Linked DNA regions of Homo sapiens. The protein of the gene in region 2 purifies or fractionates together with the protein of the main gene of each other region. This does not show direct contact. Each region holds a gene or a part of one and is shown on either strand. Other genes may lie near its edges.

Region 1 (3,500 bases), about 20 Mb from region 2:
CACACCTATAATCCCAACACTTTGGGAGTCCCAGCTACTCGGGAGGCTGAGGCAGAAGAATAGCTTGAACCCAGGAGGCAGAGGTTGCAGTGAGCCGAGATCGCGCCACTGCACTCCAGCCTGGGCAACAGAGTGAGACTCCCATCTCAAAAAAAAAAAAAAAAAAAAAAGTAAATAATCTATCCTAAATGTCCATGAAAGGTAGTATTTATTGATTTCATTTTTAAAAATAAAATTTCACCATTTACCTTCAAAATCCACATCTCCAACCAACTTGGGTTTGGCAGTTACAGGATCGTGAACTCTATTTATTCCCACATCAATGACTGCTGCTCCTTCCTTGATCATATCTGCTGTGATCAGATTTGGAATACCTGGAAATGGAGAAAGGAAAGATCAACTTAGTACTGAAAACAGTCTACCTGTCAGATTCTTGTCTAACTTCAATTTCAAGAGACCCTGAAGAACTAATCAACATGTTTTATTAAAACCTGTTAAAAATATTAACTAAGGAACTATTTACTTTTATTATTTTTTTATTTTGGCTCCTGACAGGAAACAAAAGGAACCATTTAAACTTTATACAGTAAATATTAATATAAATATTTTGAAGCTTTAGGAATAACATTCACCCATCTAGACTATAATGGACTGCCAGAAACCGGTATTCCAATCACAACTCTATCCTCATCTTTGTAGGCAGCTCAAAGAATCATTACAAGGGGAATGATGAATAGCAGCTAGGCAGGCGAATTCTAAGATGAGGGGTACAACCTCCTCTTCTGAGGTGAAGTCCTTCCCTCCATCCCCCTTGTGTTCTTACCTGCAGCAGATATTACAATATCTGCAAGAATTGTATGTTTCTTCAACTGCTCTTTGGGAGTATATCGATGAGATATTGTAACAGTGGCATCACCTAGAAAGAAAAAAATAGATGTCTTGATTTCTGACACAAAGCTGGGATTGGATTAGGTCTCAACTAGTCAAGTCATTGTAGAAACTCAACATCTCTGAAAAATAATTGACTTACGGCCAGGTGCAGTGGCTCACGCCTGTAATCCCAGCACTTTGGGAGGCCGAGGTGGGCAGATCACCAGGTCAGGAGTTCGAGGCCAACCTGGCCAACATGGTGAAACCCCGTCTCTACTAAAAATACAAAAATTAGCTGGGCGTGGTGGCGCATGCCTGTAATCCCAGCTACTTGGGAGGCTGAGGCATGAGAATCACTTGAACCTGGAAGGTGGAGGTTGCAGTGAGCCAAGATTGTGCCACTGCACTAGCCTGGGCAACAGGGCAAGACTCCATCTCCAGGAAAAAAAAAAAAAAAAACTGACTTAATGGCTTGTGCCATGTTTTCTGAACAGCTAATTGTCATTTACTTTTTTAAAATTAATACCTAATATCATATAGCTTTAACCCATTGGTCCCAGCTCGACTGTTTTGAGTCATATAATTAAATTTATTCATCCTATTTTTAAAGCCTTTCAAGAATTTTACCTTTTCTAAGCAAAATATCACTAAAATTACTCAAGGTTGTTTTAAGTATGTTGAAAGATAGTTGAAAGTATATAGTTTTGCCTTTATTTCTGATATAATCATGTAAGGTCATTATTACAATAATTATGTGATAACTGATTGACGAGGCTTTACCTTAGAACCAATTAACAGAACCTGACAGGACACATTACAGTCATACCAATCCAATCCTTTGCAACGGCTAAAGATTTTTTTCCACTAAATGACACAGTATCTTTGAATAAGAATTGCTCCTTAGCTCCAGCTATCAAAGCTATAGCTGAAATTTTCTAATTGCCTACAACCATGCTTATACTCAAAACTTAAATTTATTTCTGAAGCTAGTTACATGATAAATGAATAATAAAGAAACTCAGGTGACACTGGGTGCAGCTTCTCTACAAAGGTTACTCCCTGAATTGTCTGTTAACAAAATTTCAACAAATACAAAGTATAACAGAGTTAATACTTCCAAACATGCACAGGATGGCTTCTGAAAGTTCTTACATGGGGAAAAAAGGACAGTGTTCCCTGAAAGCAATTTCCTTACCTCCGGGACGTTCATGCGCCCCATCTGTGTGCAGTAACATTGCAATGGGCATTCCAACGTTTTTTGACCTTCCAGCCACAACCACATTCTTCCCTAGGGTTGGAATGCCTATAAAAATATATGTATTGACATTAAAAGTAGTGCCAGTCCAAAGGAAAACAAAGTCAGATGGCCTAGAACATGAACCCAATTTTGCCTCATCAGTCAACTGGAGCTGTAACTTGCTACACATAATAAGGGCTAAAAGAAAACAGGAGAAAGCATACTACAGGCTACAAAATGTTACAGGAATGTGCACTGTCACCACTATCAAATCTTAAATTTCCTTCACTGAGGGCTGGGGCGGTGGCTCACACCTGTAATCCCAGCAGGAGGGAGGATTGCTTGAGGCCAGGGAGGCTAAGGTAGGAGAATTGCTTGAGGCCAGGAGTTTGAGACCAGCCTGGGCAGCATGATGAAACCTCTGACTCTTAAAGAAAAAATTAAAAAGAAAAATAGAGGCCACGCGCGATGGCTCACACCTGTAATCCCAGCACTTTGGGAGGCCAAGGCAGGTGGATCACAAGGTCAGGAGATCAAGACCATCCTGGCTAACACGGTGAAACCCCGTCTGTACTAAAAATACGAGAAAAAAAAAAAGTTAGCCAGGCATGGTGGTGGGCACCTGTAGTCCCAGCTACTCAGGAGGCTGAGGCAGGAGAATGGCATGAACTCAGGAGGTGGAGCTTGCAGTGAGTCGAGATCACGCCACTGCACTCCAGCCTGGGCAACAGAGCAAGACTCCGTCTCAAAAACAAAAAAAAAGAAAAAGAAAAATAGAAAATTTCCTTCACTGAGACTTCTGGATTAAAAAGCAAAAACTGTCATAGGCAACTGTTAAGGGCAGGCACGATGGCTCATGCCTATAATCCCAGCACTCTGGGAGGCTGAGGGGGCGGATCACCTGAGGCCTAGTTCGAGACCAGCTTGGTCAATATGGTGAAACCTGTCTCTACTAGAAATAAAAAAATTAGCTGGGCATGGTGGCACGTGCCTGTAATCCCAGCTACTCAGGAGGCTGAGGCATGAGAATCGCTTGAACTCAGGAGGCAGAGGCTGCAGTGAGCCAAGATCGCGCCACTGCACTCCAGCCTGGGTGACAGAGCAAGACCCTGTCTCAAAAAAAACAAAAAACAAAAAAAAAACTGTTAAGAGAGGTAAACTTTGGGGAGTAAGACTAGAGGATATGCAGTAGGGTTTCCACTCTTTGGGACTGTATGAGTTTTTACCATTTGCCAGTACTACTTTTATAATATTAACACAGACATGCAATTCTGGGATATACCTACCAGTTCGCTTGATTATTTCCCACACACCCCATGGAGTAGCCGGTAACATGGAATACTGATCCAAACACATTCGTCCTACATTAATTACATGAAAGCCATCAACATCC
Region 2 (3,500 bases):
ATAATACTTAGAATTTTCTGTTCTTTAATCCTTATCTTTTTCAGGAAACAAAAATTTTTGTTATTTTCTTCCTTATATATCAGACATCCTCTTTGATTTATTTCTAGTCTTGAATTCTTCCTCTAGTTTTTCAAAGTAGGTCTGTTTTGGGGGGAAATCATCTGAGGCCTTCCTTTCCTTCCCATGTTTTTGAAATTTTGGCTTCACAGTTAAATGAAAATTTGGTTGGATATAAAAACTCTAGGCTTAAAGTGCTTTTCCTTTTAATATTAAAAAAATTAATTATCTTGTGTCCAATGTTGCTATTGAGAAATTTGATATTAACCTGTTGTTACTCCTTCATAATTTACCTCTTTGAAAGCATTTATAATTTTTCTTTGTCCCAGATGATGTTAAATTTCTCTATTAAATGTCTTAGATGCGAGTTTTTCCTTTATCTGTACTGCAAGATCGAGAGGAGAGTGAGAAACCCAACTAGGGTGTAAAATTTAAGGAGGCACTCACTCCCAGGGTCATGCAAGTGCCTCCTTAAAGTTTTGCATCCTTTGTGTCTCATTGCCTCATTTTTCTCCTGCCCCTGCTACCTGTTTGGTATTCTGTGAGCTCTTTCAATCTGAGGTGTTTGAGCTTTCTTTAATTCTTGGATATATATCATCATCATTTTCTCAAATATTTCCTTCCCTTCCCTCTATTTCTTCTTAGTTCTGGTGTTGATACTTCCACCTTCCATGTCTCTGAGCTTTTCTTTATTTCTTTATCCTTTCCTGCTGCCTTCTGGGACAGCTTCTCAGTCTGATTTTCTAGTTCATGATTCTTGTTGTCTAGACCATGTATTTTTTTGTTTCAACTGTTATATTTTTTATTTCTAACATTTTTTGTTATTCCTTTTTATGACCTGTTCTTGTTCGTATTAACAATACTTTGTTCTGTATCTTTGAGGATATTTGTTATGCTTATTTTAAATTCTTGGTATATTGGTTCTGATAATTCTCCTTCACACAGTATATGTTTTAAAATTTTCTTTTATGGTCAAATTTATGGTAGATCATATTCCCCTAGGGGAATCAGTAGGCCTGTGCAGACAAAGGCTGAAGACCAGGGTCTGGTTTGTATGTCTCCCACTAAATTTGAGGAAAGAAAATGAGGCTCAGGCCAGAGAGCTTCTGGTATCACAAAACCTATTTAGACCATTGTTAATTACTGTCACTCTACTAGGCTGGTCATGTAGTCAGGAATCCACCCTACCACCCTTAAACTGTTAAAAAAAAAAAAAAAAAGGCATCACTGAGATAAGTCAGTATCTTGATGTTTTTAATTCACCAGCATTGACGGTTGCTGGGGGAATGTTGGAGGAAGAAATGCCCAAGGGGGCAACATGTACCCATTTTCATCAGCTCGTTATCCTGGAGGGACTTCTGCGCGCTTCTGCTATTACTGTATTGACAACAACTGGCTAGGCAGTTGCTGCCAGTTTCTGTGGCCCTGGGCAAGCATGATCTTCCCAAGGCAATGTGAGGGAAAGTCAAGAGCAGATTTTAAAAGCTCTCCCACAACTTATTCTTCTTGGCTACATCTGACCTTCCTACCCTCCAGTCCAAATTGCCACCAACCCTTCGTACCAGTTCACTAAAGCCTTTGGGTTTCTCACAGTTTTTTTTTGGTAGCTCCGGTTCCTGCTTCCTTTTCCCTTCCATGGTTTCCCCTTTTGTCAAGATACAAAAGAGCTGGCCCTTTGCTAACTTTGAAGACTCCATAATTTGACCCTAGCATCCTAGAGACTTCACAAACACTGCCCTTAATTTTCACAATTCAAAAAGCAAATTATTGTTTTCTTCATTTTAGAGAGGAGGAAATAGAATTTCAATGAAGTTCAGTGATTTATTTCAAAGTCACACAACTAGGAAATGTGGTAAAGCCAGAATTTGAAAACATGTCTATTTTATTACCAAATGCATGCTTTGGATACTTCATTACCACCACCTAATTAATGCCTAAATTTAGAGCCGCTTCATTCTGTCTATACACGAAGTTATGAAACTGTGTCCGCACATACTAATGTTCTGTGAGTTGGACCATGATATTCATAAAAAAAATGGTCATCTTTTCCCACTTGGTGGAAAAAAATATAAATTATAGATAGAATTTTCTCAGTGTCATGCTTATTAAATCTTTGCACTACTGTTTTCTGTTTTCTAGCAAGTTCTAAAAGAAAGGTAATGATTAAGTAGAAAATGAGTTTTGAGCAGTTGATTGCAATTAGAAATCAAGAAAATGTTAACAGTTAACTTTTTTTATACTGCTAACTGGGAAAAGATTGCCATTTTGTAACATGTAATGTATAAGTATTTGAATATTAGTCATGCTTGCTAATAAAATTAGTTTATAACAATGTCTGAATATCAAAGTGAATTCATGAATGCTTAATACATGTAAATTTACTAACATTTTTTCTTATGTATTCCTCTAATTTTAAAGGTGTGATTTTTAAAAGTTAAATTTTATTTTTTAACAGTTGATATAAGCATATGGCACAAAATTCAAATGGTACAAAAAGATATACAGTGAAAACTGAATCTACTTCTCCCCACCTCTGTCCTCCAGTCACCCAGTTCTCTTTCCCTACAGTCACCACTGTTACCAGTTTGTTACATAGCATTTCACAGATATGTTCGTTGTACATAAACTCTTACGTACTTTTTTTTTTTTTTTTTGAGACACAGTCTTGCTCTGTCACCCAGGCTGGAGTGCAGTGGCGCGATTTTGGCTCACTGGAACCTCTGCCTCCCAGGTTCAAGTGATTCTCCAGCCTCACCCTCCTGAGTAGCTGGGACTATAGGCGTTCACCACCACGCCCAGCTAATTTTTTTTTTTTTTGTATTTTTAGTAGAGACGGGGTTTTCACCATGTTGGCCAGGATGGTCTCGATCTCTTGACCTTGTGATCTGCCTGCCTCTGCCTCCCAAAGTGCTGGGATTACAGGCGTGGGCTACTGCGCCCAGCCACATACATATTTTTTAAGGGAGAAATTTTTGTCCTTGATAGAATTTTACTTCACTAAACTTTTTTTATTGCCAGCAACAGTACTGAAAGTTGCTCTGATCTTTAAATAACCTTCTCTGCTGAAAGTAAAACTGAGTTTTAAAAATTATTTAAGATGTTAAACATACATGGAGCACAGACCAATATAATGAACTCATATACTCATCACCCAGATTGAAAGATTATTTAGAAGTGATTTTTAAAGGATTTCATACTCTTGCAAATTTTTCAGAACCCCTGTTATTGGGCGAAATGAAAAGAATTATGTGTTCAACTACAACTGCAGCAGCCCTAGAGTCTTCCAATTCCATTAGTGCTAGCTTCGGCATACAATTTCTACCCTGTGGCCACAGCCACTGGCCAAACTATAGATTCAACATAGAATTTCTCATACTCTTTCTAGTCGTGAAAAGTTAACAAATTATAGTTATGTTTTCCCTAAAATGTATTGGTATCTGTGT
Region 3 (4,127 bases), on a different chromosome or scaffold from region 2:
GGCCGTGGGGCCCTTGCTCTCTGACTTCTCAGGACACAGGTCATGGAGGTTCTTCCCAAGCTGGCAGAGGCCATTTGTGGAAAGTGGAGAGCTACGTGGTGGCCGTCTGCCAACTCCAGCATCTCTGGAAAATCTCCACGCTGAATGTGATTTTTGAAAACAGCTTATGTAATTAAAGGTTGAATGGCACATCATAATTCCAGCATTCGGTTGTGCAGCTGTGTGTATACATGCGCGTGGGGGAGTAAAATACTTTACCATGTTGCACTCTGAGAGGAAAATGGAGACTATGAACTAGTTTATTAATCTTTGGATTTCCTCCCTGTTTCCCCACCTGAGCCCCAAATCCATAGTGACTGGAAATCAGTGGTTTTGGGCTTACTCAGGAGGCTGCTTGCGGCAGTTGCTGGCCAGAACACCCGACGGGGTTGTTTCTGAGCTTTGCCTCTGTGACTGGGGCTATTGCACAAGCTCCCCTGAGGACACACTTGCTGCTTTGGGCCTCGGTGGCCCGGCCTCTCCCTGGCGCTCCCGGGCCCGGGAGCGCTCACCTGTCGGTTCCCTGGACTCTGCGGGCAGGCGCTGGCTGATTCCCGGCTGCGCGGACACCTGTGCGCTCCTGCATTTAGGGCTCCTTTGCTCTGGTTTCATCACGCAGGATGTCACATTTTGTGCATATTATTCTCTAGCTCTACTACTTTTCATTGTAAACAAACAATCATTTTCTAACCTGCCGTCGTGGAAGGCAGAGTGCAGACCGACCCTTCCCGGCAGGTGGGGGCTGAGAGCCAAGAGCGCTGGAACCGCTAGTGTGGCCTGACAGCTTCCTCCAGCTCCTTGGTTTATTTGCAAACTGGACTTCCAGCACCAGGCCCCCTGCGACCCCCTCCTGCCTTAGTCCCGTGGGATCGGGTAGTTCAAGATTTTGAATTCATGGTTTGGCACACACCGGCAAGTCTGAAAACCTGCGGGTCAGAGTGGGGCGGAGGCGTGGGCCCCCTACCCTCTGCCCCCTGCCCCCTCGGAAGCGCAGCCCTCTTCCAGGGGTTGGGACGAGCTAGCGCGGGGACCCGGGGCACCGGCAAGGACCCACCCGCTACTGGGACCTGGCGCCGGCGGCGCCTCTCGCGGGGTGGCACCGCCCACTTCCGCCTTCCGCGGGCGCGCGCTGCGCAGTCTTCGTCACAGCGCGGAGGCCTTTTGTCCTCCCGCCCTCCCCGTAGTGGCCGTAACCCGAGTGACATGTTTCCTTGGGGGCGTGGAGGGGCGGGGTCGGGGCCGGAGTGGGCCGTCAGCACTTAAAGGGCCCGCGGCTCGGGCGTAGGAGGCGGTGCCTCTGCAGCAAGCGTGGGGCGCGGGAACCCGAGCAGGTTCGGGAGACGGAATGAAGGGCCGGGTGGGCTCGCGAGGGGCCGGGGAGTCCGCGGGGAGCGAGGGAGTTTCCGAGGGGCGGGTCGTGTTCCTGGCAGCGTCCCTCCAGGGCAGGCCCGCCCCCTTTGTCCCAGTTCCCCGCTGCCCGGGCTGGGGCGGCCGGGGTTCATTCATTGCCGGCCTGAGGACTCCTAGCTCGGCCCCGCTCCGCGCTACAGCCCAAAGCCCAGCCTGAGACCCAGCCGCCCTCGTATGCCCACGGCCTAGCTCCCCTTCCCTCCAACAGACAGACTGGGAAAACCGAGTGGGCGACGGCTGAGCAAGGTCACTCCGCTGTCGGGGGCGCAGCCGGCCTCAGACCAGCTTTCGTGCTTCCCAGGGCCTCTCTGCGACCACTTTCGGGGTCCGCGCCAGGCGCGGGGCGGGGGCGGGGGCGGCTTCGGCGCGGCGGGCAGAGTCCAGCGGGCAGCGGTGGGGGAAGGGCGAGCCGCCTGGGGAGAGGGCCGGGCTGCGAGCCTGGCGATCCAGATTCCAGCCCGCTGTCGCCAGCTGTGGGACCGAAGGGCAACTGTTTCACCTCTCTGGCCCTAGTATCTGTATCTGTAAAGTGCCAGTGATAACACCTGTCTCACCGAGATGCTGGGGGAATTCAGGAAAATCATGCAAAAGTGCCTGGTACGGAGCCTGGCACGCAGAGGGCTCTTGGTCAAGTGGGTTGGAGCTGCGTGAGCCCAGAAGGGGATAGAGGCAGCGTGGAGGAAGGCGGCAGCGGGCCCGGTCGCTGGGAATGAAAGGCCTCAGTGTCTGGGGCTTCCTCCCCGTACTACCCGCAGAGTTTGTTCAGGGTGGAGGTGCGCACCTGGCCAAGTCCACGTCTACACGGCCCACCCAGAGTAGCCTAAGTTGGGCGGGATTCCTAACTCTGAGCCAGGAGTGACCGGGCTGGCCCTGGCATGGGCAGAGGCTGAGCGGGGGTTGGGGTGGGGCCCCCTCCAGGACCAACCACGGTGTGGTTGCCCCTGAGCTGGCCTCAGCCTGCCTGGCAAAGGACCTCACCCTTGAGGCCATGTGATCTATTTCCTGCTTCCTCCCAGCTGACCCTTGAGGGAAAGGGGGTGGGGGCCGCCTAGAGCAGGAGGTATTAGTCACTGCGCCCAGGAGCCAGTTTACACCTAGCGAAGGCGGAGGCATTGGACAAGCCTGGGTCTGAGCAGACAGAACCCCTTCCTGCGACCCTGGAGTCCCAATCGTGCTGCCATTTTCCTTCTGCCCAGGACTCTCCAGTCCTCAGTCACCTTGGACAAAGAAGTGTGGATCCTCAGATTCCATCTTTTCCAACTCCAAGGCAAGTGGAACTAGAAAATAAGGTGCCTGTGTGTCAGGTCTCCCCAGCTCTGCTGTGGCGGGCCCTTAAGATCACCTCACTGAACCCTCACGCTGCCTCATGAAGTTTATACAATTATTAGCTCTGTTTTACAGAGATAGAAACTGAGGCCAAGAGGCTAATTAATTTCCAAAGCCTAAGGCCAGAAAGTGATGGTACCCAGACTTGCCCCAGGGCTGACTTCTGAGCCAGTCTGGTACCTAGGGCACACTGCCGCCTCCTTCCAAAGCGAGCTTAGGGGGCAGGATTCCAGTGGGAAGGAAGCTCTGAGCAGGCAGCCTCAGCCACCTCTGAGACTCTGTATCCTGGGCCAGGTGCCATGGCAGAGAAGGTGCTGGTAACAGGTGGGGCTGGCTACATTGGCAGCCACACGGTGCTGGAGCTGCTGGAGGCTGGCTACTTGCCTGTGGTCATCGATAACTTCCATAATGCCTTCCGTGGTGAGCGGGGCAGTGGGGCTGGGGCTACTTGAGGGGATGGCAGAAGCAAAACCCTGGGTTCCACCTCCACCACCGGGCGGGGAATGTGTGTCTGGCTAGTCCCTGGGAACACAGCACCCCATGTCGTGATGATGTGGCCTACATGTACCCTACCAGGAGGGGGCTCCCTGCCTGAGAGCCTGCGGCGGGTCCAGGAGCTGACAGGCCGCTCTGTGGAGTTTGAGGAGATGGACATTTTGGACCAGGGAGCCCTACAGCGTCTCTTCAAAAAGGTGGGTGCAGGCTGGGCACGGTGGCTCACGCCTGTAATTCCAGCACTTTGGAAGGCCGAGGTGAGGAGATCACTTGAGCCCAGGTGTTCAAGACCAGCCTGCTCAACACAGTGAAACCCCATCTCTACAGAAAAATACAAAAATTAGCTGGGCATGGTAGCCCATACCTGTGGTCCCAGCTACTCGGGAGGCTGGCATGGGAGGATGGCTTGAGCCTGGGAGGTGGAGGTTGCGGTGAGCTGAGATGGCACCACTGTACTCCAGCCTGGACAACAGAGCGAGACTGTCAAAAAAAAAAAAAAAGGTGAGTGCAGGCAGGCAGGCTGAGGGCATTGCCAAGGACTAAAACCAGTAGAGCAACCTCTGGCCATGTCACCCCTGCAGTACAGCTTTATGGCGGTCATCCACTTTGCGGGGCTCAAGGCCGTGGGCGAGTCGGTGCAGAAGCCTCTGGATTATTACAGAGTTAACCTGACCGGGACCATCCAGCTTCTGGAGGTGAGAGGCATGGGACAGGGCACAGACACTAGGAGGGTGTCCAGCTGGACCCCAGCCTGGCAGGCAGTGCCAAACACAGAGCCCAAGCTGTATCATCCTGGACTCATGTCTTTACCTCCCAGTCTCAGTTTCCCCATCTGTAAATGAGAGTGCTCATCACCT
Region 4 (3,668 bases), on a different chromosome or scaffold from region 2:
TTTTGGTAACCTCCCTCGTCCTGGGCGTGGAGCCAGAGGAGGCACCCGGGGAGGCCGGGGAAGGATCAGGAGGGCAGAGAACTATGGACCCAGAGCAGAAGTGGTGGTAGGTGTCTGTATTGACGGTTTGGCGAAAGAAGTTAATAAGGACAGTGCCCTGGGCCCAGGATGGTCTAATTTCAGAGGGTCATGAGTTTCTGCAGTCACTTCTTTCTGTAGCTAGTGTGGGACTGATGTTGGGGCATTTGGACGGTGTTGTAGCATCATGGACATCTTGCCTAGAGACCGTTCTGTAGCCCTGGCTTCCAGGGTCTGCTGTGAAGGCACTCCCGGGATCAGAGAGAAACTCACTGTCACCCGCATTAGACAAGATCCCCAGGCTTGGGATTGAACTGGAGCACCTGACGTTTTGCTTACTGTGGCCTGATTGTGTGCCTTGGGCTCAGGTGATGCTGTCAGAGTGGACAGAATCCTCCCTAAGATCTCAAGCCCTTTGTGAGGGGACCTTCCTCAACCCCTCCCCGGCTCACCTGCCTCACACCGTCCTCAGCCAAGGCTGCCTGATTCTAGCTCTCAACACAGCACGCTCCTTACCCCTGGCCTCTGCCTGCTGGCCTCCATTCATCCTTCCAGCCTCACTTCCTCACAGGTTTCTTTGATCACATCTCCTAGACCGATCAAGGTCTCGGAGCAAAGGAGTTTCTTTTCATTGAAGCCTGATCTCCGTGTGCGGCTGTATTCTCACTGGTGTGGCTATCGGTCAGCGGCTGCTTTTGCTCATTACCGGTTTACGCAGTGCCACGCAGTGCCTGGCATGTAGTAGGTGCTTCCTAATGTGGTATGGACACTTATTCATTGGAAATCAGCCCCGAGGCCCCATGGCACAGACCCCTTCTCTGTGGCTGGTCTTGGCAATGCTCCTCCTGCTGCCCGGTTCCCTCGCTCTAGGGAGCAGCCCCTGGAAGCAGTGTCTATGGTTTGTTTTTGCTTAAGCAGGAGCAAAAACACAATTTTTTGGGCGGGGGGTGTAGGGGTATATTTGGGGCCAGGTTGGAAATAGGGTCTATTCTGCGATAGGAAACACACCCTCACTCCTTTCCTATAGCGGAGCTCTGTCCCCTGCAGCACTCCAGGGAGTGTGTTGGGAAACCACTCTGAGATCCAGTGCCACCCACCTCTTCACTGGCATCTGTCCCCACCTCCACAACCTGTGCATCCCTCCACCTCAGAACCGCCCTTAGGGCCCGCCCCCGCCCCCATCAGGTCACACTGTTTCCCAATCCAAGTCCTTGTTCCCTTTGCTCATCCATTGAGGTTCATCCCAGGGAGAACCTTCTCTTCCCACAAAACCTTGCCTGACCTTGGTGTCCACTGTGCCACCAAATTGCACTGGATGGCCCTCCTGTGGCCCCTCCTTCCCAGGACGTGTTAGTGAAGCTCCTGATTCGATGGTCAGTTTCTCCAGCACCGTGAGCTCCCCGAGGATAGGCACTGTCTGTGCTCCTCCAGTGCCCGGCACGCAGTAACCATTCTATTTACTCGATGAAGGACGTGCCCATGCAGAACCCCCAGTAAGAGCTTGCAGGACGTAGGAAGGGAGGCAGCTCCTTTTTCGAGGAGGCTGGAGGCCTGTGTGGGAGGGGGAGCTGTACTTTCCTGGGTTAGCAGTGACCTGTGACTCTCCCCTTCCCACTGTGGGTCCTGCCTCTAATGCAGGCCCCTCAGCGTTGGTGCCAGGCCCTTGTTATCCCACTGGGATATCGGGAATGGATGAAGGGGCAGTGGATTTCAAAGTATTTCTTTTTTTCTTTAGATGCAAGATGTTGCCCCCAACCCAGATGACCCGGAAGATTTCCCTGCGCTGTCTTGAAAGAGCCCTGTTTCCCAGCACCGCGGAGCTGCACTGCACACCTGTGGGGAGACTTTTCCAGCTGGGCCAAGGGAGTCAGACTCTAAGAACAATAGATGTTGCTTTTCCCGTGTCATGTAAATTTGTTGCACTTTTTTGGGCTGAGCTGTTAGAGGGGCTTCTCCAGAGGCTCGAGAGCAGGCCATTTCCCAAGAAGATGAAGAATGGTGACTGTGTTTTTATTGAAGGAATTTCAAATGAAGAATAATGTTTAAAATGTGTATATAGAGATAGTATAGACTCCTCCGCGGAAGCATGGAGGGAAAGGAGGTTGTAAAATAGACTCCATGGAGACTCTTAGGAAGCAGTAGATTCCCGGGGGCTGTGCCTTTAGCGTTAGAGGAAACACATAGAGCTGGAACTGTTAATGGAAAGCAGTCACAGCTGAGTTTTCGGAGACCAAGAAATTAAAATACAATTGCACTTACTGTTTACTTGTAAATGTTATCTTCTCTCCTGGAATATTTTGAGTTCTGGTTTTCACTTAACCAATCATTTAAAAATCGCTATTGTGTAGCCACTGGCCACCACTCTGTGACACAGAATCAGAGAAAGCGTTGATTTTTAATGGTGATTTAAACTACCTCGTGGTTTCTGTGTGTGTGCACACACACATCTAGTGTTTGGGTGGTTTTTAGGAAGAATATTAAGTATGTGACTTCAAAAACCATGTTATTTAACCTGCCAATCAAATGGAAAGGGATCATGGCAAAAGCAAATACCGCATCCTTTTCTTCCGCAGAACTAGAGTCAGAGTTCGGCAGCTGCGTACAAAGGCCTCTGCCCTCGGCTTGAGCAAAAGTTGTAAATAACTAGTATTTATTAAGCACTTATAAGCAGTTTTTCTCACTTAGTCCTGGCTCCAGTTCTAGAGTTCCTCTTTATTGCTTTTGGTGAAAGTTTGGGGTTGGGGGTACACCTCAGAGGTTCAGTAATTCACCTGGAGTCCCACCCTGAACAGAGCTGGACCCAGAGCCACACACGCCCGGGAACACACACTGTGCTGGGGAGGAAGTGGGCCTAGGAGGGCCTGCAGGTCCAGGCAGCTGTAGAGCTGCTAGAAGCTGGGGTGTTGCTCTCCCCGCTTTCTCATAGACACAGAGGTACTGTCTGCCTGTTGTCACACAGTTCATATGCTCGCTTGAGATGGAATCTGAACCTTGGTCCCAGGATCTGTGCTTTTTCCCACTTTGCCACACTGTCTAAGGTGGCTTTGAACTGGAACCCAAGTGCAAATAAAGGTTGGTATTCGCTCCTGACTTTGTGTAGAGAAAACAGTCCTTTGGTTACTCCAGGCCACAGCAGTCGGTCATGATTTTGTTGAATAATCAAAGTTGAATCCATACACGTTAGGGTCAGTTAAGGATGTTTGCTTTGGGTGATAGCCTACTTTTGGTCTCTTATTTATTATCTGAGTACTAAGGTTTATCAACTGAGTGTTTTCTTCCCTTTCCTGGAAAAGGCAATGGATGCAAGTGCCCTGATTTCTGAAATCTGAACCTAGCCGGTACAACATCAGGGCTGTGTCATGAGTCAGTGGCTTTGAAGCTGTCACACTGTCATTTTGCCTAACTGCGGCTTTGAAGATTAGCCAGAGAGCCCTTTGAAGAAACTTTCCTTTAGTGTTGTGAATAATACTTGAAAAGCCCACAGCACTTGGTTTAATGTTGCAGTTGCAAAAACACTGACAGTTCCTATCCCATAGAGCTGTTGAGTCATGTGGTTGAAGACAGTTTTGGGGAACCCGGTGCACGTTCTG
Region 5 (3,500 bases), on a different chromosome or scaffold from region 2:
CACTCTGTTGCCCAGGCTGGAGTGCAATGGCGCAGTCTTGGCTCATTGCAACCTCTGCCTCCCGGGTTCAAGCAATTCTCCTGCCTCAGCCTCCCGAGTAGCTGGTGCTACAGGCGTGTGCCACCACACCCAGCTAATTTTTGTATTTTTAGTAGAGATGGGATTTCACCATGTTGGCCAGGCTGGTCTTGAACTCCTGACCTCATGATCCGCCTGCCTCAGCCTCCCAAAGTGGTGGCATTATAGGCGTGAGCCACCATAGCCGGCCGTTTGTTTTTTTGAGATGGAGTCTTGCTTTGTCACCCGGCTGGAGTGCAGTGGCATGATCTCAGCTCACTGCAACTTCTGCCTCCTGAGTTCAAGCAATTCTCCTGCCTCAACCTCCCTAGTAGATGGGATTACAGGCGCATGCCACCCCACCCAGCTAATTTTTGTATTTTTAGTACAGACAGGGTTTCGTCATGTTGGCCAGGCTTGTCTCGAACTCCTGACCTCAGGTGATCTGCCCGCCTCAGCCTCCTAAAGTGCTGGGATTACAGGCATGAGCCACCACACCCGGCCTGAATGGTGGTTTTATGTAAAGGCTGTTTTAAAATAATAGGTAAATTCCCAGTCTATCTTTAAGAGCCTGATATAACAGTTTCAACCTTTCTAGAAAAACCAGAGTGGTCTTGGTTAACATATGAAGTTTCTGGAATGTTAAACACTGCAGTACATATTTTAAAAAGTCAAGATTCAGGGTACACAAGACCTCTCTGTACCATTTTCTTTAACAACTTTCTCTAAATCTGTAACTGTTTCAAAATAAAAATTATTTTTAAAAGTAAAGACTAGGTACTAAGGAAATTTTCCATTTAAGGTTAACTCCAGAACTATAAATTTACCAACACTTAATAAATATTAAAAACAAACAACAACAACAAAAAACCCGTCCTCACTTTTCTCCCTTGATTTTCAATTCACTCAGTGTTCCAAATATGTGAGCACCTATTAGGCAAAAAGCATGTCAACATAAGCTGTTCCTAGAATATAAACATACTACTTATACTACCTCTTCGCTATAACTGCCCCAACAGAGAATATCATTTTTTTTTCTTATTCTTCTTAAACACACCCCTGGCCAGGTGTGGTGGCTCACACCTGTAATCCCAGCACTTTGGGAGGCCAAAGCGGGTGGATCACCTGAGGTCAGGAGTTTGAGACTAGCCTGACCAACATGGTGAAACCCTGTCTCTACTAAAAATACAAAAATGAGCCGGGCGTGGTAGTGGGTGCCTGTAACCTCAGCTACTCGAGGGGCTGAGGCAGGAGAATTGCTTGAACCCAGGAGGCAGATGTTGCAGTGAGACAAGATCGTGCCACTGCACTCCAGCTTGGACGACAGAGCGAGACTCCATCTCAAAAACTAAAATAAGATAAACACACTCTAAAAGTAGTTTCCCTATTCCCACCAAGTACCATTCCTTTTCTATACCCGAGGCAAATGGCTACTTTAGCTATGATAAAGGAGAAGATGTTCTCCTGTCCAGAATAGTCACAAAAATCTATTTAATCCAGAAAATAGCTGAAACAGCATGGTAGAAATGGAAATAATGCAGAATTATTCAGCTATGTCATGAGTTGAATCGATCTTTAAGGACCATCTGGGACTCTGACATTTCTCTTTGAGAAAACGTGCTCTGAGGCCCCCAAACTCAACTTTTCAAATAATTAATTTTCAAAATAAAAGTTGGAGGTTGCCAATATTTCCCACTATTCACTCCTAACACAAAATTGTTGCTTGGTAAGAGATACCTATACCTGGTGCCTAAATTCTTTTCCCTTTTGAGAGCTTTCACTCCAACGTATGTCAGTAAGTCAAAATGAACATTACAGTGGCAAGTTGATATCCAAAAAGCTGATCCAATTATATCATCTATATCCTTTCCCCTAGTAATCAAGAATTCCCTATTGTGTCCTAAGTCTGATAACAGTAGGCCCTGACTGGGCTGAAATGCAGCTGAGACTCTTCTGTAACTTGTTCTCATTTAACTTCTAAGAAACGACCTAAGATGAGATAATTTAGTAGCAACAAATAAAATTACTTTGTACAACTTCAAATGTAACCAGAAAGGCATGAGATAAGAGTAACAGTAACCTTCAAAAAAGTACATCTAATGTTCTCTTGGATGGTACACCTTTCGCAGTAATGATAAGAGCACAATGAATACATTTTTCAGCAGTTTTAGCCTGGGAAGGATACAACAATGGTATCTACTGCAGCAGGGTAAAGCTTAGCTCCAGGAGAAGTTAAGCCTGGACACATGATATTTGCTCCACTGAGTACAAATTTGATGGCTCCTTTATCAACCTGCTGGTGTGGCAGGATAAAAGGATCTGTAAGAAAAGATATACAATATATTAATAATAAGACTAATGACTCAACAGAAAAAGGCAAAGGATCTGAACAGTATTTCCCCAAATTAATCTGACAGATACAAAAGAAAACTCTGAAACACTATCATTTGTTTACCAAATTGGTAATCTTTTTTGTTTGTTTTTTTGAGACAGGGTCTTGCTCTGCCACCCAGGCTGGAGTACAGTGGAGCAATCAATACCTCACAATAACCTTGAACTCTTGGACTCATGCAATCTTCCCGCCTCAGCATCCCAAGTATTCTCCAAAAACCGTAATTTCAAAACTATGGTTTTTGGAGACTACTTAATATGCCCTGGGAAATTTTTGTGATATAATGTTAAGTGAAAAACGCAGAGTAAAAAAACGATTAAAAAGATCAGTGGTTACCTGGGGTTGGGGAAGTGGGGGGAGGAAGGATGAATAGGTGGAGCACAAAGGATGTTAGGCCAGTAAAACCATTCTGTATGATACTTTAACAGTAGATACTTGACATGTATTTGGGAAAAACCATAAAACTGTAGAATACAAAGAGTAAACCCTAATGTAAACTAAGGACTTGCGTTAATAATAATGTATCAATGCTGGTTCAATTGTTACAAATGTATCATTCCAAAACAAGATGTTATTCATAGGGGAATCTGAACTGGGGAGAGGGAACTCTATTCTTTCTGCTTACTTTTTCTGGAAACCTAAAACTGCTCTAAAAAATAAAAGCCTGTTAATTTAAAAAAAAACTACAAGGGGATGAGGAGAAGTTGGTTAAGGGGTATAAAAATACAGGTCGATAAGTTCTAGTATTCGAGAGTACAATAAGGAAATTATATTTAACAATGATTTACTCTATATTTCAAAATAGCTAGAAGAATTGTAATCTTCTCAACACAAAGATAAACGTTTGAGGTGACAGATACCCTAATTACCCTGATTTGATCATTACACGCTGTATAAAGGTATCAAATATCACATGTACCCCTAAAATATGTACAACTATTATAAATATATATAGGTGGTGGGGGATACAGGCACCACAACAGCAGACAATGTACAGCTATGACGTATCAATTTTTAAAAACTATGTAACAGAGAGCCCAATTTTAAAAAA
Region 6 (3,500 bases), on a different chromosome or scaffold from region 2:
ATAATATACTATAAAACACACCCACAAGACTATTTTAAGTGGCATCCAAAAATTGATATACAAAAGTAAACTGACACTCGTGAACTGTTGAGATATGGCCACTAAAAATGGAAACATCTTGCTTTGTTTATATTTTCCGTTTGTTTTAAAGAGAATGCTTGCTTTGGGATATAATCCGAATACCATTAGGCTCACAGGGCAAATCTTCCTTCTCTTAGGCACTAATGCAAACAATAAATTTTTGCTAAATTTGTTAAAATTTCAGATTACAGTATTTGAACACTGTAGCTACTTTGAAACTATCTTATCTCAAATTTTTCCTTTGAAGTCATGTTTTTTATGGCAGCAGCTTTGGTGTTGAGGAAAGAGCATTGGACTTGGAGTCAGAAGACTTGGGTCTGAGTCCCGACTCTGCCACTTGTTAGCCATGTGGCCATTGGAAGAGTCATTTAGCCTCTCTGGGCCTCCATTTTTTTCAATTGTATAATGGGCATAACTAGCCTTACAGAACTGTTGAGTTGGAGACAACAGATGGAAAAGCACTTTGTAAATTGTAAAGTGCTATGCAAACTTAAGAAATCATTAGATGCTACCGTAACTTCTTTAAGGTGGCAAACAGTTTTCTGTGGGAATACAATTTCCAGAAATATGGCTTACAACTAGTGTTAAATATTTACCTATATTTAAAGACAGGTATAAAACAGACTCTCTTCCTACCTTCGAAGTTCCATTGCTCGTCGCAGCCTTTCAAAACGAACTAAATGTTCTCTCAACCTTTGTTCCTTCATCTTTTCAAAAGGCAAGATCTCTTTCCTTCTGTAGTCTTTATCTCTTTTTTTATCTAGACTAGCTCTCTCCTTTTCCTTACTTCTTCCATGAATCTGTAGAAAAAAATTAGAAGAACACTAGAAATTAAAATATTTTGGGGCTTTATTTTTCAAGTTTAGTAGGTCATTTAAAAAGTTCAAATGACTAGTAACATTTCCTTTTTCTTGGGTTTGCTAGCATGCAAGTACGCAAAGATGGTTATGGAAAAACAGAATTATCTTCTTTTGTAAACAGCTGAAGTAGTATACAACCATCCTGATCAGAGACTTACTTTCTCATATCTTCCTCTTCTTGATGGTCTACAATGATCTCCTTTAGTTTGGTCTAGTATTACCATATGTCCTGGACTCTTGGAACCTAAGGGAAAAAAATTATATAAAACAATGTCTAAAATTTTTCATTGAGAAAGAAAATATGTATGTAAAAATGCTAAATTCTGATAGTCACACACCAATACATGAAATAAAAAAACTACTTATTCTACAAGAACTTCAATGCAAAGAGTTTTTTAAACAGTTCAGTCTGCTAACATAAATACTTTCAGTGATACCAAAAGATCCTAATTCAATAGTACTAATCAATGACCATTTTAAGTCAGCCCAGAATAGCAAAGGAGCTTAGCTGGAAGAATACATTTGTTTGTTTCCCCAGAGTAGAAAAGAAGACAATTACTCCTACTAGACCTCCTTTCCTACCACAATGACACCTAACAACAAAGCTTATATCTGGATTAGAATTTCAGGTTTTCCCTTCCACTGTAAAAATTAAGTAGTAGAATGCATTAGAAAGGGATTGAAAAGATGTATAGCATACTTATTCGCTTCTTTTCTTCACTTTTTTTAATCGATTCTGATGTTTGGCCACTTGCTCCATTATCATTCTTCTCATCTTTACCTTCTATTTTCTTAGTATCCTTGCTTTCTTTTTTTTCAGATTTCTCAGACGATCTTTTCTCTTCTTTTTTGACAGAGGCTTGTGTCCTGACCATACCGCCCCAGACAAAAAAACAGAATGAGTACTTCATAATGTACCAAAAAAGTCTATCTGCTTATCAAAATAAATAAATAAAAATAAATCCTTACTTGCTACTTCTATCACTCGTATTTTTTTTATCTCCAGAACTTCTTGAACTACTCTTTTCATCATTTTCTTTCTTCATTTCTTTCTTAGAGGGATCACCTTTTACCTGAAAGGTTCGAACCAGAAAAACAATTTGTACATATGGTTACATTTTTGTGATTATAAGAAGTGTGCTAATGGCAGAAAATTTGGAAACGATAGGAAAAATATAAGGAGAGTAAAAACTACAAATACATAAAAATTAAAAATCACTGCAAATTCTACTCCCTGCTACTGTTAACAGCTATGAGTTGAGAACTAGCCATCAAATTAGACTTGCTTTGATAAACAGTTAGGGAAGCTTACTTTTTCAACAGAAATCAGCTGTCCATGCAGCTCAGTGCGATGAAGATGTGCAATACACCTGGACACCTCTGTGCTTGAAGACATAGTTACAATGCCATAGCATTTTGCCCCAGGACTTCGAGCATTTGTAACTACTTTTGCACTCAGAACCTATAAAATCAGACTGTACTTTAGAGAGTTTTACAACGTTCCAAGTACACAGACTTCTAAATACATGAAACTTCACAACTGAAACTATATATTAATTCAGGGTGTATCTTATTCTGTCTCATGTTTTTTTTTTTTTTTTTGAGATGGAGTCACACTCTGTCACGCAGGCTGGAGTGCAGTGGTGTGATCTCAGCTCACTGCAACCTCTGCCTTCTGGGTTCAAGCAATTCCCCTCCTTCAGCCTCTCAAGTAGCTGGGATTACAGGCATGCACCACCATGCCCTGCTAAGTTTTGTATTTTTAGTACAGATAGGGTTTTGCCATGTTGGCCAGGCTGGTCTCAAAGGCCTGACCTCAGGTGATCGGCCTACCTCGGCCTCCCACAGTGCTGGGATTACAAGCATGAGCCACTGCAGCCAGCCTATTTCATATTCTTGTGATCACCATCTACGTTACCCATCTTAGTAAATATTCAGGGGAACAATTTAAAGTGCCAAAAAGCAATTTAACCTTTTTATATTTATTTCCTCCCCTCAAATATGTAGCCAAAACACAATCTCATCAATGAAGTAATGGCACAATTAATAAAAGCAAATAAATTGGATTTGAACCAAAATATCCCTATCATAGGCCCACCCTGAATGTCTTTAGAGAAAGTTTCTAGTATTTTATTGATGAGTGTTAACACTTTTCTATAATGAGTAAAGAACCAATCACATATAAAAAAGCGGACTTAAAAATGCATCCCCCGAAAAACACCCTAAAGCTTGAAAGACAACACTTTCAATCTATGTGCTTTTAAAACGTATATGAACATGACAAATAATTGCAATTGTGTAAGATGGTTAGTTAAGAGAGACAAAGCAGGGATGGATGAGTGAGAAGAAAAGAGAGAGAACGATTCGGTGCTGAACAAAGAAGAGTAAAGACATAAAGCTGGGAAGAAGTAAACAGGAAAATCAGGAGTTTTATGGTATGGGTGGCTGGAACAAATCAACTTTTACCTCAACCCTAGGAAAGGCTGATTTGCTCCATAGCCATTTATTTTTTAACTCCACGGGTCTTCTTACCAAATAAATGGTATCCTCATATAGTTT
Region 7 (2,802 bases), on a different chromosome or scaffold from region 2:
AAAAGTGCTTTTTTAAGTGGGAAAGGAACAAGGAAGACGTTAAGCAATGGGATAAAAATAGAGATTAAAAAAGGAAAAACCTCAAGGAGTTCTATTTTTTAACTTTTTTTTTTTTTACAATTTTTCTCCTCCTACCCCCCCACTGAGAAGTTTTTTTTTTTTTTTTTGAGACAGATTCGAGATGGAGTCTCACTCTCTTGCCCAGGCTGGAGTGTAGTGGCGCAATCTTGGCTCACTACAACCTCCACCTCGCGGGTTCAAGCAATTCTCCTGCCTCAGCTACTAGAATAGCTGGGATTACAGGCATGAGCCACCATGCCCAGCTAGTTTTTGTATTTTTGGTAAAGACAGGGTTTCACCATATTGGCCAGGCTGGTCTTGAACTCCTGACCTCAAGTGATCCACCGGCCTTGGCCTCCCAAAGTGCTAGGATTACAGGCATGAGCCACTGCGCCCGGCCCGGAGTTATAGTTTTAAGTAAGCATTGAGCAAAGCTTTAAGTAAAGGCTCAGTGTCCTGACCTGAAAGCTGTAGTTGGTATCATGGTTCATGGCACCCATGTATGCCACAACTTGCAGTGGGTTGTCAAATGTACTTTGAATAAAAGGCTTTGGTTTCTCTGATGTCTTCCAATCAATCACACAGAGCTTGCCCCTAAAGAGAAACCACAGGAAGACTTTGTAGGTAATAGATCACAATGAAAATCTCTACTAGGTTAACAGTTCTCTTATGTATAGTTTGTTACTTGTCAGCCAATGACCATTGCTCTTATTCACCATTTTTTTCCTTTTTTAAAAAAGAGATGGGGTTTCATATGTTGCCCAGGCTAAACGCATACTCCTGGGCTCAAGTGATCCTCCCACCTCAGCCTCCCAAGTAGCTGGGACTATAAGTGCACCCCCCCACTTTTTCTCCCTCTTTTTTTGCATCAAATAACCAGTGGATTCCTCCCCCCATCCCCTATCCTGGTCGGGTTTATACTTGCCAAATGCAAATATCAAAAGGATACAGAGAGTGGACCAGTAACTGGTGACTCTCAAAGGACTCTATCGGTTCAATCTGTCTTTCATGACTTCAATTTCAAAATCAGCAGTTTATAGGGAGATTTTGTACAAAGCATGTATATTACTTACATGTCACTATAGCTCTAGACAGTTACACCTCATGCAAACTCAGTCTAGAGCAGCACTGGCTAAAAGAAGTAAAATGTGAGCCATGTGTCATTTTAAATTTTCTAGTAGCCACATCGGAAAAGAAAAAAAAAATACAGCTGAAATTTTAACATTTTACTTAACCCAACATATCCAAAATATCATTTCAACATGTAATCAACTAACAAATGATTAATGGGATATTTTACGTCTTTTTTTTATTATAGGGATATTTTACATTCTTTTTTGTACAAAGTCATTGAAATGTAGTTTGTATATTGCTATAGCACACCTTAGTTTGGCCTGACCACATTCAAATGCTCAATAGCTATAGGGGTTAGTGGCTACTCTACTGGACAGTTTAGGTTTAGAGATAATTTTATTGTCTTCAGAATTGTTTTGTAATATTGCCAAGTTTGACAATCTGTGTAGTTGAGAAAAGGGCCCCAGTAACTCTAGGATGCCATTCCTGGTTCTTCTTTTTTTTTTTTTTTTTTTAGATGGAGTCTCACTCAGGCTGGAGTGCAGTGGTGTAATCTCGGCTTACCACAACCTCCGCCTCCTGGGTTCAAGCTATTCTTCTGCCTCAGCCCCCTGAGTAGCTGGCATTACATGTGTGCGCCACCTCGCCCAGCTAATTTTTGTATTTTTAGTAGAGATGGGGTTTCGCCCTATTGGCCAGGCTGGTTTCAACTCCTAACCTCAAGTGATCCACCCGCCTTGGCCTCCCAAACTGCTGGGATTACAGGTGTGAGCCACCATGTTATATTTCTGCCACAGAACACTGTTTGCAGCAATGTACTGTAATTGTAGAACTTAATAAATGTAAAAAAAAAAACCTTAATAGCATTCTGAAAACTATAAAATATTGATGAAAGAAACTGAAAATGATACAAATAAATGGTAAGATATCCTCTGTTTATGGACTGGAAGAATATTGTTAAAATGTCCATACTATCCAAAGCAATCTATAGGTTCCACGCAATCTTTATCATAATTCCAATGGCAGGCCAGGTGTGATGGCTCACACCTGTAATCTCCAGCACTTTGGGAGGCCAAGGCAGGTGGACTGCTTGAGCTCAGGAGCCCGAGACCAGCCTGGGCAACATGGTGAAACCCTGTCTCTATAAAAAATACCAAAAAATCAGCCAGGTGTTGTGGCTGGAGCCTGTTGTCCCAGCTACTCAGGAGGCTGAGCCCAGGAGGTGGAGTTTGCAGTGAGCCGAGATTGCACCACTGCACAACAGCGTGGGTAACAAAGCCAGACCCTGTCTCAGGAAAAAAGAAAAAAAAAAAATTCTGCCGGGCACGGTGGCTTACACCTGTAATCCCAGCACTTTGGGAGGCCAAGGTGGGCAGATCACCTGAGGTCAGGAGCTCCAGACCAGCCTGGCCAACATGGTGAAACCTCGTCTCTACTAAAAATACAAAAATTAGCCAGGCGTGGTGATGTGCCCCTGTAATCCCAGCTACTCGGGAGGCTGAGGCAGGAGAATTACTTGAACCTGGGAGGCAGAAGTTGCAGTGAGCTGAGACTGTGCCATTGCACTGCAGCCTGGGCGACAAGGGTGAAACTCTGTCTCAAAAAGAAAAAAAAATTCCAACATCATTTTTCACAGAAATAGAAAAAAAAAAATCCTAAAATTAACAC

The links.
Region 1: the proteins of CIMIP6 (region 2) and MTHFD2 purify together in Homo sapiens (affinity purification with mass spectrometry; one large-scale study listed by BioGRID and IntAct). This does not show direct contact.
Region 3: the proteins of CIMIP6 (region 2) and GALE purify together in Homo sapiens (affinity purification with mass spectrometry; one large-scale study listed by BioGRID and IntAct). This does not show direct contact.
Region 4: the proteins of CIMIP6 (region 2) and HABP4 purify together in Homo sapiens (affinity purification with mass spectrometry; one large-scale study listed by BioGRID and IntAct). This does not show direct contact.
Region 5: the proteins of CIMIP6 (region 2) and MCTS1 purify together in Homo sapiens (affinity purification with mass spectrometry; one large-scale study listed by BioGRID and IntAct). This does not show direct contact.
Region 6: the proteins of CIMIP6 (region 2) and SLTM purify together in Homo sapiens (affinity purification with mass spectrometry; one large-scale study listed by BioGRID and IntAct). This does not show direct contact.
Region 7: the proteins of CIMIP6 (region 2) and MGME1 purify together in Homo sapiens (affinity purification with mass spectrometry; one large-scale study listed by BioGRID and IntAct). This does not show direct contact.

What each region holds. Positions count from the first base shown.
Region 1 is NC_000002.12:74,208,615-74,212,114, reverse strand, and holds part of MTHFD2 (bifunctional methylenetetrahydrofolate dehydrogenase/cyclohydrolase, mitochondrial isoform A precursor), read right to left. Parts: coding exon 3,394-3,500; intron 2,174-3,393; coding exon 2,066-2,173; intron 917-2,065; coding exon 824-916; intron 375-823; coding exon 249-374; intron 1-248. UniProt on the Homo sapiens protein: Although its dehydrogenase activity is NAD-specific, it can also utilize NADP at a reduced efficiency.
Region 2 is NC_000002.12:54,354,884-54,358,383, forward strand, and holds part of CIMIP6 (ciliary microtubule inner protein 6), read left to right. Parts: intron 1-3,500.
Region 3 is NC_000001.11:23,797,955-23,802,081, reverse strand, and holds the start of GALE (UDP-glucose 4-epimerase), read left to right. Parts: upstream 1-1,327; 5' UTR 1,328-1,370; intron 1,371-1,503; exon of another isoform or gene 1,504-1,695; intron 1,696-2,534; exon of another isoform or gene 2,535-2,645; 5' UTR 2,646-2,716; intron 2,717-3,069; 5' UTR 3,070-3,074; coding exon 3,075-3,195; intron 3,196-3,351; coding exon 3,352-3,467; intron 3,468-3,851; coding exon 3,852-3,965; intron 3,966-4,127. UniProt on the Homo sapiens protein: Catalyzes two distinct but analogous reactions: the reversible epimerization of UDP-glucose to UDP-galactose and the reversible epimerization of UDP-N-acetylglucosamine to UDP-N-acetylgalactosamine.
Region 4 is NC_000009.12:96,488,169-96,491,836, forward strand, and holds the end of HABP4 (intracellular hyaluronan-binding protein 4), read left to right. Parts: coding exon 1-106; intron 107-1,813; coding exon 1,814-1,870; 3' UTR 1,871-3,168; downstream 3,169-3,668. UniProt on the Homo sapiens protein: Ribosome-binding protein that promotes ribosome hibernation, a process during which ribosomes are stabilized in an inactive state and preserved from proteasomal degradation.
Region 5 is NC_000023.11:120,607,101-120,610,600, reverse strand, and holds part of MCTS1 (malignant T-cell-amplified sequence 1), read right to left. Parts: intron 2,377-3,500; coding exon 2,243-2,376; intron 1-2,242. UniProt on the Homo sapiens protein: Translation regulator forming a complex with DENR to promote translation reinitiation.
Region 6 is NC_000015.10:58,892,180-58,895,679, forward strand, and holds part of SLTM (SAFB-like transcription modulator), read right to left. Parts: intron 2,404-3,500; coding exon 2,254-2,403; intron 2,015-2,253; coding exon 1,911-2,014; intron 1,809-1,910; coding exon 1,642-1,808; intron 1,186-1,641; coding exon 1,100-1,185; intron 882-1,099; coding exon 718-881; intron 1-717. UniProt on the Homo sapiens protein: When overexpressed, acts as a general inhibitor of transcription that eventually leads to apoptosis.
Region 7 is NC_000020.11:17,986,018-17,988,819, reverse strand, and holds part of MGME1 (mitochondrial genome maintenance exonuclease 1 isoform 2 precursor), read right to left. Parts: intron 655-2,802; coding exon 522-654; intron 1-521. UniProt on the Homo sapiens protein: Metal-dependent single-stranded DNA (ssDNA) exonuclease involved in mitochondrial genome maintenance. Has preference for 5'-3' exonuclease activity but is also capable of endonuclease activity on linear substrates.